2 separate regions of the Homo sapiens genome follow, and region 1 is linked to region 2. Evidence: fine-mapped expression QTL. Tissue or cell type: sun-exposed skin. Region 2 holds a variant in brackets; the other region holds the start of a gene. All regions are shown on one strand. Distances are between the middles of the regions.

Region 1 (8,000 bases), 52 kb after region 2:
AGTCTCACTCTGTCACCCAGGCTGGAGTGCAGTGGCGTGATCTCAGCTCACTGCAACCTCTGCCTCCCGGGTTCAAGTGATTCTCCTGCCTCAGCCTCCTAAGTAGTTGGGATTACAGGCACATGCCACCACACCTGGTTAATTTTTGTATTTTTAGTACAGACGGGGTTTCACCATGTTGGTCAGGCTGGTCTCAAACTCCCGACCTCGTGATCCTCCTGCCTCAGCCTCCCAAACTGCTGGGATTACAGGCGTGAGCCCCCACTCCCGGACTCTCTCTCTTTCTTTCTTTCTTTCTTTCTTTCTTTCTTTCTTTCTTTCTTTCTTTCTTTCCTTCTTTCTTTCTTTCTTCCTTTCTTTCTTTCTCTCTCTCTTTCTTCCTTCCTTCCTTCCCTCCCTCCCTCCTTCCTTCCTTCCTCTTTCTTTCTTTCCTCCCTTCCTTTCCTTTCTTTCCTCCCTTCCTTTCCTTTCTTTCCTCCCTTCCTTTCCTTTCTTTCCTTTTTTTGAGACAGGGTCTCATTCTGTCGCCCAAGTAACGTGATCTCACCTCACTGCAACCTCCACCTCCCAGGTTCAAGTGATTCTCCTACCTTAGCCTCCTAAGTAGCTGGGATTACAGGCATGTGCCACCACACCTGGCTAATTTTTGTACTTTTAGTAGAGGTGGGGTTTCACTACGTAGGGCAGACTTGGAGCAATTTTTCATATGAATATATGCTATTTCTATTCTCTCTTTTGTAAATTGCCTATTCTTCTTTTTGGCCATTTTTTTCTATCGAGTTATGTGTCTCTTTCTCATTGATTTCTAACAGTTTTTACATATTCTGGATACTGAACCTTTGTTGGCTATGTGTGTTGCCCATACTTTCTCCTGGTCTATGGTTTAACTTTTTACCTTTTAGGGTGTGTTTTAGCTTTCTTTTATACTTCGTGCTTTTATATCTCATTAAGAAACTTCTTTCTTTCTTTCTTTCTTTTTTTTTGGAGATGGAGTCTTGCTCTGTCACCCAGGCTGGAGTGCAGTGGCACGATCTCGGCTCACTGCAACCCCTGCCTCCCAGGTTCAAACAATTCTCCTGCCTCAGCCTCCCGAGTAGCTGGGACTACAAGCACACGCCACCACGCCTGGCTAATTTTTTGAATTTTAGCAGAGACGAGGTTTCACTGTGTTGCCCAGGCTGGTCTCAAACTCCTGAACTCAGGCAATCCACCTGTCTCAGCCTTCCAAAGTGCTAGTGAGCCACCGCGCCCAGCCTTCATTAAGAAATTTCTACCATGAATTCACAAAGGCATTTTCTAATATTTTATTCTTCAAGGTTTTAAGTTTTGCCTTTTCACATTTATGTCTATAATCCTCTTGGACTTACGTTTTCCTTTATGGTATGAAATAGAGATCTTTTTTTATCACATACATAATCAATTGTCCTTACCCCATTCATTGAAAAAATAATCTTTTCCCCACTAGCAGTAAGATAACACATACCAAATTTATATATATATACACACACACAGAGACACAAACATGGTATGTGTGTATATTGGTTGCCTATTAATGCACAACAACTTATTCCAAAACTTAGCAGCTGAAAACAATAAACATTTATTATCTCACAGTTTCTGTGGTTTAAGAATCTGGGAATGGTCCAGCTAGGTAGTTCTGGATCAGGGTCTCTCACAAGACAGTGACTAAGAGGTTGGCCAAAGCAGCAGTCATTTTGAAGCTCTACTGAAAAAGGACCCACTTGCAATTTTACTGTGTAGCTGATGGCAGGTGTCTGGCCTTCACTGGCTGTTGACCAGAGACATTGGTTCCTTGCCACATGCATCTCTCCTTAGAGTTGCTCACAACGTGACAACTTGCTTACCCTCCAAGTGAGAGATCAAAGAAAGTGACAGAGCTCCCAAGATAAGAATCACAACATTTCATTCTCTAATCTCAGAAATGACATGAAGTGACACTTTATCATGTCTATCATGCTCTTTGTATCAGAAGTGAGCCACCAAATCCAGCCCATACTCAAGGTTAGGGAAGCAGACAAGACTGTGAAGACCCGGAGGTGGGGATCATTGGGGTTATCTTAGAGTGGTCTACTACAGTTTCCATTTGTTGATCTATGCCAGCCTCCCTACCATACTGTCTTTTTTTTTTTTTTCATCCTGTCTTAATTACTGTAGCTTGTACAAAGTCTTGTTATCCGGTAGAGAATGTTCCCCTACTTAATTATTATTCAGTATATCTTTCCTATTTGGGGCCCTAAAAATAGAATGTAGAATCTGCTTGTTCATTTTAATTGAAAACCCCTGGGCCAGGCACAGTGGTTCATACCTGTAATCACACTTTGGGGAGGCCAAAGTGCGAGGATCACTTGAGCTCAGGAGTTCAAGACCAGCCTGGGCAACATAGTGAGATGCTGTCTCTACAAAAACTAAAATAAAATAAATTATCTGGTTTTGGTGGTGCATGCCTATAGTCTTAGCTATTTGTGAGGCTGAGGTGGGTGGGTGGGTGGATTGCTGGAGCCTGAGAGGTTGAGGCTGCAGTGAGCTGAGACAGCACCACTGCACTCCACACTGGGCAACAGAGTGAGACCCTATCTTGAAAGAAAGAAAGAAGAAAGAAAAGAAAGAAAGAAGAAAGAAAGAAAGAAATAAAGAAAGAAACAAATAAAGAAAGAAGAAAGAAAGAAAGAAAGAAAGAAAGAAAGAAAGAAAGAAAGAAAGAAAGAAAGAAAGAAAGGACTCTGTTGGGATTTTTATTGGAATTTCATTACATGAACAGATTAATTAGTAAATGAATTGATATTTTATGATATTGAGTCTTCCTATTCATTTACATGCTTTATATCTCACATAGTCTGAGAAGCTCACCAGAAAGATTAGTGCAAAAGGGCTGGGAACAGTGGCTCATGCCTGTAATCCCAGCACTTTGGGAGGCCGAGGTGGGCGGATCACCTGAGGTCAGGAGTTTGAGACCAGCCTGGCCAACATGGTGAAACCGTGTCTCTACTAAAAATACAAAAATTAGCCAGCATGGTGGCAGGTGCCTGTAATCCCAGCTACTTGGGAGGCTCAGGCAGGAGAATCGCTTGAACCCAGGAGGTGGAGGTTGCAGTGAGCCAAGATCACACCACTGCATTCCAGCCTGGGCGACAGAGGAAGACTCCATCTAAAAAAGAAAATTAATGCAAAAGAAGACAATTTGGGGGTCTTTTCAATAATTCAGTGGTAACACACAGTATATGGAGAGTTTGTGTATTGCTCCAATTCCCGAGTTTAAAAGGTTTAAGGTCTAGTTCCATATAGAAGTCCTGCAGTTCTAATAGACTGTGTTTTGATGAAATATCCTCAGTAAGTTAGTATGAGGTATGCACAACATTTCTGCTGAAATCCTTATCCTGCCTATCATTTTGCAGTGGACATCCATGGTTCAGTTTGCCTGGCAATCCTCCCTTCTCATAAGAACATCATCGCTCTTCTTTTAGGGAACTAACAGATCCTCCCCAAACTCCAATCAGGTGGTCCTAATCCAGGTTGCCAATCGCAGTGCTTCAATCACAGGAGTAAGCACAGGTCCTAGGCCAGGCCAATCACAGCTCCTTCTTGGATTTTCCAATTTGATAAAATCCAGGCTGGCTGGATAAAATCCAGAGGGAGAGTTTACTCCCACTCCTAGTGAGAGAACAGCTGCCAAATTTCTAGTCTTATGGAGCTGGTGTCTGACAAACTGAAGCTGCGATGCAGAAAAAAGCTGAGATGAGAGACGGGGACATCTTGGTGGTGGCCAGGTGGCTAGTGCCATATACATCCCTGCCCAACCTCATTTTGGTTAGGTGAGCACCAGTCATTCCCATTTATTCTTTTAACAACAGGAAGTATTTAATGAGCATCTACTATTATGAGCCAATCATTGAAGACACAGTGATGACTAAGCCTTCCAGTGAACACAAAATATATATTAATGTAAAAAGTACTGCAAGTTATGGACATTTGGAACCTAAGTAGGCAAACCATGACTTAAATCTCATTTAGGCTGGGCACAGTGGCTACACCTGTAATCCCAGCACTTTGGGAGGCTGAGGCGGGAGGGTCACTTCAGCCCAGGAGTTGAGACCAGCCTGGGCAACATGGTGAAACCCCCATCTCAAAAAAATACAAAAATTAACTGGTCTTGGTTTTGCAGCCTGTAGTCTCAGCTAATCGGGAGGCTGAGGCCAGAGGACAGCTAGAGCCCCGGAAGTCGAGGCAGCAGTGACTGCAGTAAGCTGAGAGCACACCACTGCACTCCAGCCTGGGCGACAGAGCGAGACACTGTTAAAAAAATTAAAAAAAAAAAAAAAAGAAAGAAAGAAAGAAAAGAAAAAAGAAAAAGGAAAAGAAAACTTATTTAATTCTCAACAAATCCTGTTAGGAAGCTCAGAGAGGGTCAGTAATTATTGCAAGTTTCTAGCGCTAATATATAGCGGAACCAAGACTTGAACATAGGTTTTCGACTCAACAATTGTTTTAATTACTCTGCGCTGCGTAAACTGAGAAACCTCTGAATCCTTACAATTTTAAAAGAACAACTTACAGTTTTCAGTTTCCATCAGATTCCAATTTTCTACCAAATTGCAGCCCTGAGGTATGAATGGTTACCAAACTTTAGTTAAACAAACAAAATTAGCTCATTAAGTAACAGAGAAACCACTCTGCCCAGCCTGCATTTTTTTTTTTTTTTTTGTATGAGTTTGCCTCCTTTATGCGCAAGGCTCCTTGGGAGTTGTAGTCTGAGGCATAGTCCTGTGGGTGGAGGCGCTGACTCACTGGGACCCAATCAGCAGAGAGTCAACTTGCTCTCCGCGCAGCGATTGGCTGGAAGTCAGCGGTCTCCCGCCCGCGGCGCCATCGCGCCATTCCTAGTTAAGGCGGCACAGGGCCGAGGCGTAGTGTGGGTGACTCCTCCGTTCCTTGGGTCCCGTCGTCTGTGATACTGCAGCGCAGCCATGGCAGAACCGCAGCCCCCGTCCGGCGGCCTCACGGACGAGGCCGCCCTCAGTTGCTGCTCCGACGCGGACCCCAGTACCAAGGTGGGCACAGGACCGAAGGGAACGGCTCCCCCAGCTCCGCTGGGCCGGGACCGGGCCGCATTCTATCCAACCCCATCCCGCCGCCGCTGCAGGTCCGCCGGCCTCGGGCGGACGGGAGTGTGATGGGAAGAGGGATAATGGTGTTTGATGGGGCGATCGTGGGGCCCGCGAAGTGTGGAGGGGATCTGTTGCCTCAGCTAGTTTCAAAGACTGCGACCCTGTTTTGAATTGGCTTGTTTATGTTGCGACGGTGGCTGGAAGCCAGGCCAACCCAGGGTCAGCTTTCCCAAATCAGTCGCCAAGGCCCACGAGAACAGTAGTTTCAGAACTCCCAGAAATAGGTTCAAAGATGCCTGTCCTGTACCAGTCCTGCCCAGCCTCGTTTTTCCTTACCACCCTGACTGCAGTCTTAACTCCTGCAAACTAATTTGATCGCTCTAAGTTTAACCGCGCCCAGAATTTCACTTTTGCTTGCTTGGCCTTTGCTGTGGGTCACAACAGCCCTTCTTGCCTTCCTCATCTTCGTGGGGCCCAGGAGAGATTACAGAATCATAGAGTTTGGATCTGAAAGGAATCTTAGAAATTCCTTCTCTTACCCTCTCGTTTTACAGTAATGACCCAGTAAGAGAAATGACCTGTTGCATACAAAGGCTTTCACTTACCGAACATGTCTTTACTGGGTAAGAATCAGTGTAACTCACTCAGGTGTGGTGTTTCGGTTGCCTTGTTAAGATCAGACACAGTTGGCGGGCGCGGTGGCTCACGCCTGTAATCCCAGCACTTTGGGAGGCCAAGGCGGGCGGATCACGAGGTCAAGAGGTAGAGACCATCCTAACACGGTGAAACCCCGTCTCTACTAAAAATACAAAAAAATGAGCTGGGCGTGGTGGCGGGTGCCTGTAGTCCCAGCTACTCGGGAGGCTGAGGCAGGAGAATGGCATGAACCCGGGAGGCGGAGCTTGCAGTGAGCTGAGATCGTGCCACTGCACTCCAGCCTGGGCGACAGAGTGAGACTCTGTCTAAAAAAAAAAAAAAAAAAAAATTCAGGCACAGTAACCGCTGTTTATTCCAGTGAAGTCATCAGTGTCTGTAAACACCTTTGTATTTATTTATTTGACTACATCATTTGTAAATTCCTTGAAGATTGAATATGTGCTTCGTGCAGACCTTTAAAAGGGGTAGATAAGTGGTCCATGACTCTGGTCCCTGCTTGTTCTTTACCTTCAGGGCAAAGAGTCAGACACATCTCATTGCTAAAACTTTTGACTAGCACCTGGTACTTGGCTTAGGAAAAATGTTAGTCATTGCAAAATTAAGGGGGAAGGTAAAAAAATTCCGTCATGCCCATCTCACTTGTATATCCCTTAATATTAATACCTGGTTTTTTCATATAATGTAAATTGAGTCACTCAGTGTAAAGTATTTTCCCAGATAACTAGGGGTTTTATGTAATGGGGTTTTCAAATAAAAAGGATTCCAGGGATATCTTTATAAAATATACTAAGTAAATGTCCTTGCAGCTTAATTTACATTCCACAGTATCTAAATTTCTCTTGATGATTCGGAGTAATTAATTTTGAGATCAGTAATTTTTGGCCATGGGAGACATAAAATGGAATACATAATAATAGCTGGTATATATTGAGTGTGCCAGGCCCTGGCTTGGTATTTTAAGTACATTGTTTAATTTAATCCTAACAACAACCCTATGAAGAAGGCATAATTATGATCTTCATTTTACAAATAAGGACACTCAGGCACATAGAGGTGTTGAGTGATTTGCCCAGGGAGGACCCCACACTTCCAACCTCCACCCTGTTCTGCTTCTGGGGTGCTGACTCCAGCAGTAATTTTGGAATTTGCCATAAAGGAAAATAAAAAACCTCAATGAAGGCTGGGTGCAGTGGCTCATGCCTGTAATCCCAGCACTTTGGGAGAGCGAGGTGGGCAGATCACCTGAGGTTAGCAGTTCGAGACCAGCCTGGCCAACATGGCAAAACTCTGCTCTACTAAAAATACAAAAATTAGCTGGGCATGGTGGCGGGCACCTGTAATCCCAGCTACTTGGGAGGCTGAGGCAGGAAAATCACTTGAACCCATGAGGTGGAGGTTGCAGGGAGCCGAGATCATGCCACTGCATTCCAGCTTGGGTGACAGAGTGAGACTTTGTCCAAAAAAAAAAAAAAACCCTCAATGAATTAAATTCAGTTTGATCACTTGATACATTTATGCTATATGTAAAGAAGATGGTAAGTACTTTGGGGATACTGGGATAAACAAGATGAGGTTCCCTCCCTTCACCAACTTATATCAACTCTAATATACAATGGACCTGGGGTTAGTGTGCTATTGAAATATAAATCACCCTGAGAGCACCCTGGGAGGTAGAGGTTTTTAAAGGTAGCATTAGTGGAATGGGGTATGCACAGGGTATTTGGAGCCTGAAGACCTGCATTTGAATCCCCACTTCTGTTGTTGGCTGCAGTGACCTTGCCAGGGCACTTGGGCTCAGTTTGTAGAAGGAGCATAAAGATATCTCAGAGAGCTGCTATGAGGATAAAATGACATGTATTATGTTCTCTAAACTATGAAGAGTGATACAATTCAAGGTTGTATTTCAGCTGTGGGGATCAGGGCACACATCAAAAAGATGGTGGTGATGGGCCTATGCCTTGATAGATTGGGTAGGATTCCAGCAGAGTACATGGGAAGGCATTCTGATGAAGGAAACATCTTAGCAAAAATGTGTTTTGATACGGGGGGAACCCACCCCAATATTTCAACGTAGGTTCTTTCTATTTTCCATAAGTATTGGCCAGCTGAGAAATAAAGAGTACAAAGAGAGGAATTTTACAGCTGGGCTGCCGGGGGGTGACATCACATATCAGTAGGACTGTGATGCCCACCTGAGTCTTAGACCAGCAAGTTTTTATT
Region 2 (8,000 bases):
TGAAAGTGATTTTCAGACATGTAGAAATCCAGGAAGTTCACCACCCTGAAACCTCTCTGAAAGAATTTTTTCAGCAAAAGAAATAATGAATCCAAGAAGGAAAAAGATGTGGGAATCACAAAACAGTGGTGATAAATAAATTAGCAATACTTGGATTTTAGTCTGAATACTTGTTGATTCACAATGTTGAAAAAAATGTTAAGAATAATATGGAACTGTTAAAAAATTATTCAGTGATACTTGCAAAGCAAGAGACTTTATTCAGGACCATTGTGATAGGTATAGGGACCACTGCAATGGGATCTTGTAGCAGGAAAGAGAGATTGGGCTCAACTCTGAACACAGCATGGGCAAGCAGGAATGTATAGCCAAGGGGCAGGATGGGAGTCAGTGGGTGGAAAATTATTAAGAGGAAACATCAGAGGTAAGGGGGATTTTGGTTAAACTGACCTAACAGGATTCTTGCTGAAGACAGGCCAAAGTGATCAGACAACACCTGGGGGGTTGGGGGGAATGAAAACCTGATCAGATATCTAGAGTCATCAGATATCAAGAATGGGGGGTTCTTGCTAAACTGACTTAGCAGGGTTCTTTGCTCAAACTAGATTTCACTAGAAAGTGCAAAGGTGGGCCTACCAGAAGATTCAGAAGCCAAGCAAAGAATCATTGTCAGAACTAAAAATGATCTCAATGTGGGACATATATGGCAAGAATGAGAGAGACAGGTAAAGAGGAAGGATTCTGAGAGTCTTGTCGTATTTAGGACATAGTGATTAAGCCTATACTTTGCTTTTTAAAAAAACTTAAAATGTGACTATGACTTTATATATTTCGTTATGCTTGAATAATTTACAAATAAATTCTATTCATGTGGGTTTTTTCGTTGGTGGTGGTTTGTTTGTTTGTTTGTTTGTTTGTTTGTTTTTTGAGACAGGGTCTTTCTCTCTTGCCTAGGCTGGAGTGCCATGGTGTTATCACAGCTTACTGCATTCTTGAACTCCCAGGCTCAAGGGATCCTCCTGCCTCAGCCTCTGGAATAGCTAGGACTACAGGCACACACCACCATGCCCAGCTAACTTAAAAAAATTTTTTTTTGTAGAGCCAAGGTCTCTCTATGTTGCCCAGGTTGGTCTCAAACTCGTGAGCTCCAGCGATCCTCCCACCTCAGCCTCCCAAAGCGCTGGGATTACAGCCTGAACCACCATGCCTGGTCTCATGTGTTGCTTGAGTAATTTCTCAAATTATTTTAAAAAAGACCAATATCCCTGATGAACATGGATGCAAAAATCCTCAATAAAATACTGGCAAACCGAATCCAGCAGCACATCAAAAAGCTTATCCACCATGATCAAGTGGGCTTCATCCCTGGGATGCAAGGCTGGTTCAACGTACACAAATCAATAAACATAATCCAGCATATAAACAGAACCAAAGACAAAAACCACATGATTATCTCAACAGATGCAGATAAGGCCTTTGACAAAATTCAACAACCCTTCATGATAAAAACTCTCAATAAATTAGGTATTGATGGGATGTATCTCAAAATAATAAGAGCTATTTATGACAAACCCACAGCCAATATCATACTGAATAGACAAAAACTGGAAGCATTCCCTTTGAAAACTGGCACAAGACAGGGATGCCCTCTCTCACCACTCCTATTCAACATAGTGTTGGAAGTTCTGGCCAGGGCAATCGGGCAGGAGAAGGAAATAAAGGGCATTCAATTAGGAAAAGAGGAAGTCAAATTGTCCCTGTTTGCAGATGACATGATTGTATATCTAGAAAACCCCATCGTCTCAGCCCAAAATCTCCTTAAGCTGATAAGCAACTTCAGCAAAGTCTCAGGATACAAAATCAATGTGCAAAAATCACAAGCATTCTTATACACCAATAACAGACAAACAGAGAGCCAAATCATGAGTGAACTCCCATTCACAATTGCTTCAAAGAGAATAAAATACCTAGGAATCCAACTTACAAGGGATGTGAAGGACCTCTTCGAGGAGAACTACAAACCACTGCTCAAGGAAATAAAAGAAGATATAAACAAATGGAAGAACATTCCATGCTCATGGGTAGGAAGAATCAATATCGTGAAAATGGCCATACTGCCCAAGGTAATTTATAGATTCAGTGCCATCCCCATCAAGCTACCTATGACTTTCTTCATAGAATTGGAAAAAACTACTTTAAAGTTCATATGGCACCAAAAAAGAGCCCTGGCAAAAAATTGCCAAGTCAATCCTAAGCCAAAAGAACAAAGCTAGAGGCATCACGCTACCTGACTTCAAACTATACTACAAGGCTACAGTAACCAAAACAGCATGTACTGGCACCAAAACAGAGATATAGACCAATGGAACAGAACAGAGCCCTCAGAAATAATGCCGCATATCTACAACTATCTGATCTTTGACAAACCTGACAAAAACAAGAAATGGGGAAACGATTCCCTATTTAATAAATGGCACTGGGAAAACTGGCTAGCCATATGTAGAAAGCTGAAAATGGATCCCTTCCTTACACCTTATACAAAAATTAATTCAAGATGGATTAAAGACTTAAATGTTAGACCTAAAACCATAAAAACCCTAGAAGAAAACCTAGGCAATACCATTCAGAGCATAGGTATGGGCAAGGACTTCATGTCTAAAACACCAAAAGCAATGGCAACAGAAGCCAAAATTGACAAATGGGATCTAATTGAACTAAAGAGCTTCTGCACAGCAAAAGAAACTACCATCAGAGTGAACAGGCAACCTACAGAATGGGAGAAAATTTTTGCAATCTACTCATCTGACAAAGGGCTAATATCCAGAATCTACAATGAACTCAAACAAATTTACAAGAAAAAAACAAACAACCCCATCAAAAAGTGGGCAAAGGATATGAACAGACACTTCTCAAAAGAAGACATTTATGCAGCCAAAAGATACATGAAAAAATGCTCATCATCACTGGCCATCAGAGAAATGCAAATCAAAACCACAATGAGATACCATCTCACACCAGTTAGAATGGCGATCATTAAAAAGTCAGGAAACAACAGGTGCTGGAGAGGATGTGGAGAAATAGGAACACTTTTACACTGTTGGTGGGACTGTAAACTAGTTCAACCATTGTGGAAGTCAGTGTGGCGATTCCTCAGGGATCTAGAACTAGAAATACCATCTGACCCAGCAATCCCATTACTGGGTATATACCCAAAGGATTATAAATCATGCTGCTATAAAGACACATGCACACGTATGTTTATTGCGGCACTATTCACAATAGCAAAGACTTGGAACCAAGCCAAATGTCCAACAATGATAGACGGGATTAAGAAAATGTGGCACATACACACCATGGAATACTATGCAGCCATAAAAAACGATGAATTCATGTCCTTTGTAGGGACATGGATGAAGCTGGAAACCATCATTCTCAGCAAACTATCGCAAGGACAAAAAAACAAACACCGCATGTTCTCACTTAGAGGTGGGAATTGAACAATGAGAACACACGGACACAGGAAGGGGAACATCACACACTGGGGCCTGTCATGGGGTGGAGGGAGGGGGGAGGGATAGCATTAGGAGATATCCCTAATGTTAAATGACGAGTTAATGGGTGCAGCACACCAACATGGCACATGTATACATATGTAACTAACCTGCACATTATGCACATGTACCCTAAAACTTAATGTATAATAAAAAAAAGAATGACATTGGCTAGCAAATTTAAATATATATTGTTTAATCATTTTTAAAAAATTATTTTAAATAATTAACCATGCGGCGCTACACAGGAAAATTTTACACAAACTATAGTGTTCATGGGAGTAGCTAAAGAAGCACTGTTAATAGTAGACACACTCCTATCTCTTGGGTAGAATCAAAACTATTTGAAATGAATAAATTAAAAAACCACCAGGCACATTTTCTTTAAGTATTGGGGCTTACATCTGATAAACAGAAAAGTACCAATTACTCCCTTCAATTAAGTACAACTGAGTCCAGTCAACGCCTTTCTCTTCTTGTCCACTGGAAGTATTAAAACTCTGAGAGGCACTTAGGCTTCCAAATTCCCTTCCTAGGGCTCAGAAGGAAAGATTTGCTAACTTTTTCACAGGATGACATGTAATTTCCTCCCACAGAAACTTACCTTGATAAACAATGAGGTCATTCTCTCTGAGGTATTATAATACCTTGACACACCGTGAATCATTCTGATGGCATTAATCAAATTTTGTATTCCATGTGCCATGGAAACCTAACATTGAAACAAATTAAGTGAATTCCATCATATGCATATAGTTTTAATAACCAATATTCTATAATACTCAAAACTCTAAAGGTACACAAAATAGTATAGCATTTTTAGCTTAAAGTCAAATTTTACTAAATCCAATGCAGTATTCTAGACTAGACCCTGGAACAGATAACAGGACATTAGTTTTGACAAACAAACTAAGGTAATACAGGATGTTAACAGGAGAAACTGGGTAAAGAGAATTCTGTGCTATCATTGCAACTTTTCTGTAAATCTGAACTTAAAAGTTTATCTAAAATTAAATTTTAGAGGTGAGAGCCATTTTAAGGTTAATAGTTCATTCTGCTCTTTTTAAAGGTGAAGAAACTGATACCTTGAGGGGTAAAGTGACTTTCTTAAGGTCATAAGCCCAGCTAAAATAGAAATCAGACTAGCATTCATTTTCTTTTATGCAACTCAGTTCGTGTTTTAGCAATCCTACCAAGTGCCATTAGGCTCTGAAGATATTGGAAGAAATCCAAACCTATTCATGAGTAGCTCACAACAGAGCAGAAGAGATAAACACAAACAAGTAAAACAAGTAGAA[A/C]AAGGTAGAGCAAAGCAGAACAAGTACAACAAGGATATAAAACAATCCTGAACATAAACTGACTGCTTACTATATTCCAGGCACTAGGCTAAGAGCGTTAGCATATTATTCTAAGATATGCTGACAACAACCCTTGAAGGTAGGTTTGATTACATCAGATATAAAACATCACGGATTGTAAGATTGCACCATTATTTTCTGTGCTATTAAGAAAGAAAAAAGACACCCAAGATGAGGAATCTAACTCCTACATAATACTAGGCCACCAGTGGGTCCTCCCTGTTAAGGTAAACATGAAATAAACCAACCATGGAGAAAAAGAGAGAAACAAAATGTACATGCTACCAGGAGGAGGAAAGAAATCAAACTTCTTTGAGAATGTATGCACAGGTACTCAACTGCAGTCTGAATTCATACGAATGGCACCAAAATCAAAAACAAAACAAAACAAAAAAAACACCCTCAAGGAGAGAACTAATAATTTAAGGTAGTATCAAGTCACATCCACAATGATTCACAAAACCTAACTGACTAAAGTATGTCCTGAGTTCAGGGATATTAAAATGTGAAAAAAAGTCTTAGAATCTATAAAATAAAGTATTATCATTATTCCCATTTTGCAAATGAGAAAACAGAGAGGTAGAGAAGTTAAGTCCCTTGCCTAAGATCCAACAGCTGTAAGTTACATAGTGGAGATTTTGAGACCCTGCTTCTAACCGTGATGCAAATCACTACAGGAGAACAGACAAAGCCAATGGCATCCCTCCCTTCAAGGAACTTTCCTTTTAATTGATAAGACAAGATAAAATATATAAAATGTGTTTTTAATGGTGATGGAAGAAATACAGCCAAGAAAAACAACTACCGATTACTGTACGGTATGTCCTAGGTGTGGGGTATAACTATGGAATAATTAAATCAGTTTTATGTGGCTTATGGAAATTAACACCATTACTTTATAGTTAACCTTCTAGGCCAGAATTCATATTATATATGGTATCTGTAGATCAAAAAGATCCTAATAAAAATATGCCTAGAAAGAGTCCCTTCCACCCTTCCTAAGTCATGTCTACAAAGTACCACTAAACTCCAATAAAGAGGGCTCAGGGATGGCATCAAATGGGTCCTTCAGGAAAACGTCCTTCATCTGAACTTTAAACATCATTATTTACAATAGTAGCTCCTTGAGTGCACTGTTCTTGTCCATCTATATACAGTGCTCAGATATCTCATATGTCAAACATATAATAGTAAGATATGCCTAAAGCACAATACCAGGGTGATTAAAAAAATGAAACATACATAAAACTTATGAACCAGAAATGGAAGCATGAATCCCCTGCACTTTTCCTACCCAAATGACAGTTATAAACTAAACAGCAATTGCTGGTTACTTTTAATCAGAATAAAGAAAATGAGGGGGAAAAAGGAATTGTTGAAAGTACAGATATAGTGGGTGTATGAGTGGGAAGCAATTATATGACTCAATGCTATTAGTACTTCTGTCATTTCAAAAGGTGATGCTTGAAACCTTCCTACATCAGAGAATATAAAAAGCTCAACAACAACAAAATAACAATAATAAGGCACATCCATGGTTAGAGTAATTGAACAAAGCTTTTTAAAATTACTAGGATGAAAAAAACATCAGAACTAAATGATTTTTAAATTATATGAATTAAAACAAGTCTTTTGAATCAAGAAGTTGAAATCAGTATACCTTAAAATTTGGAGTCTTGATAGCAATGAAGAGTATTCTTTCTTTCAAGTTTACTTTTTATAATAAAAAGCTTTAAATATATAGAAAAGTACAGAGAAAAATATAATGACCACCTACTCCCATCATTAGATTTGACAAACGTGAACGTTGTGCCATATTCACTTCATCTATTATTTTTTCACATCAAGAGCTACTTGCGGTAGCCCTGGAGTAGGCTTTAGGTATTATGTGTATTTCATATTTGCATCTTCAAATCTTGTGAGCAATCTGAAATGCTTGTGACATGTAATAATTTTAATTTTTCTTGGACAGAAATTTTAATTGCTCACATTGTAAAGTTGGGGAATTAAGTCATTGAGCTGCCAAGTAAGCCAAGCAAAGGCCTTACTTCTCCAACACCATATACAATTTGATTTTCTTTACTTGGGGTCACGTGCACAGAAATACCTAAGAAATAGTATAAATGTTCTTATATTAAACAAATTTTACAAAGGTTCACAACACAAGTCCAGCTACTAGTAGCAGGGGTAAAAATGAGAAGAATGAAGTTTAAGAAAGTCATAATTCTTGGTGGGGAGGAAGGGAGAGAGGTGTGAGCTGAAAAACTTCCTATTGTGTACTGTACTCACTACCTGGGTGACAGCATCCATACCCCAAACCTCAGCATCATGTCATATACCCATGTAACAAACCTGCACATGTACCCCCGAATCTAAAATAAAGCTGTAATTTTTCAAAAAGTCATCTCTTTGCAAATAATACTAATAAGTTTTAAATAAAATCGACAATCTCTTTATGGACTCAATTAAAAGACTCTGCTTCTAAAGTCTTCCTGTCCCCTCTCATGGTGCTCCCTGATGGATAATGGATTCCTCATGGCAGTAAGAAATGCACTTGTCCAAGACTCTCAACTGACATTTTTCCCTCCCCTTTCATATTAAACTTCTTGACTACTAACACTCTCTTGGAAAGATTATAAACTGCCTTTACACCTCCTTCTTCTCCAAGTCTAAGTGATATAGGCCATAACCTCTTTCCTTCTCCCTGCCTCTGGGATGAAACCTACATTGACCCAAGAAGGTTGGTCAACAAAACCATGTGGCCAGTGCTGCCACCTATATGGAAGATTTGACTACTTCTTAAAAAATTAGAGTGAAGAATACTGACACAGATATCAGACACAAATTAAATTAATTTGAAAGTGTTGGGCCCGATGGCTCACGCCTGTAATCCCAGCACTTTGGGAGGTGGAGGCGGGCAGATCACTTGAGGTCGGGAGTTTGAGAGCAGCCTGGCCAATGTGGCGAAACCTTGTCTCTACTAAAAATACAAAAATTAGCCGGGCATGGTGGCATGCACCTGTAATCCCAGCTACTCAGGAGGCTGAATCAGGAGAATTGCTTGAACCCGGGAGGCGGAGGTTGCAGTGAG

Evidence for each region. PIP is the estimated chance that this variant, and not a neighbour inherited with it, causes the effect.
Region 1: GLO1 starts here. The variant in region 2 is fine-mapped to the expression of GLO1 in sun-exposed skin (GTEx, PIP above 0.99). The same link has a PIP of 0.9 or more in esophagus mucosa, minor salivary gland and unexposed skin.

What each region holds. Positions count from the first base shown.
Region 1 is chr6:38,700,037-38,708,036 of GRCh38, reverse strand. It overlaps GLO1 (glyoxalase I), which reads left to right and starts at 4,892. Exons shown (of 6, transcript NM_006708.3): 1 at 4,892-5,066. The coding sequence starts at 4,983. RefSeq lists enhancers at 4,616-4,775, 4,956-5,055, 5,076-5,125, 5,158-5,750.
Region 2 is chr6:38,752,235-38,760,234 of GRCh38, reverse strand. DNAH8 (dynein axonemal heavy chain 8) reads right to left here. Exons shown (of 93, transcript NM_001206927.2): 10 at 4,156-4,263. Among named protein-coding and RNA genes, the nearest start is that of DNAH8, 41 kb to the right of the region's middle. RefSeq lists an enhancer at 3,422-4,621. The variant A/C (reference allele first, on the strand shown) is at 4,850.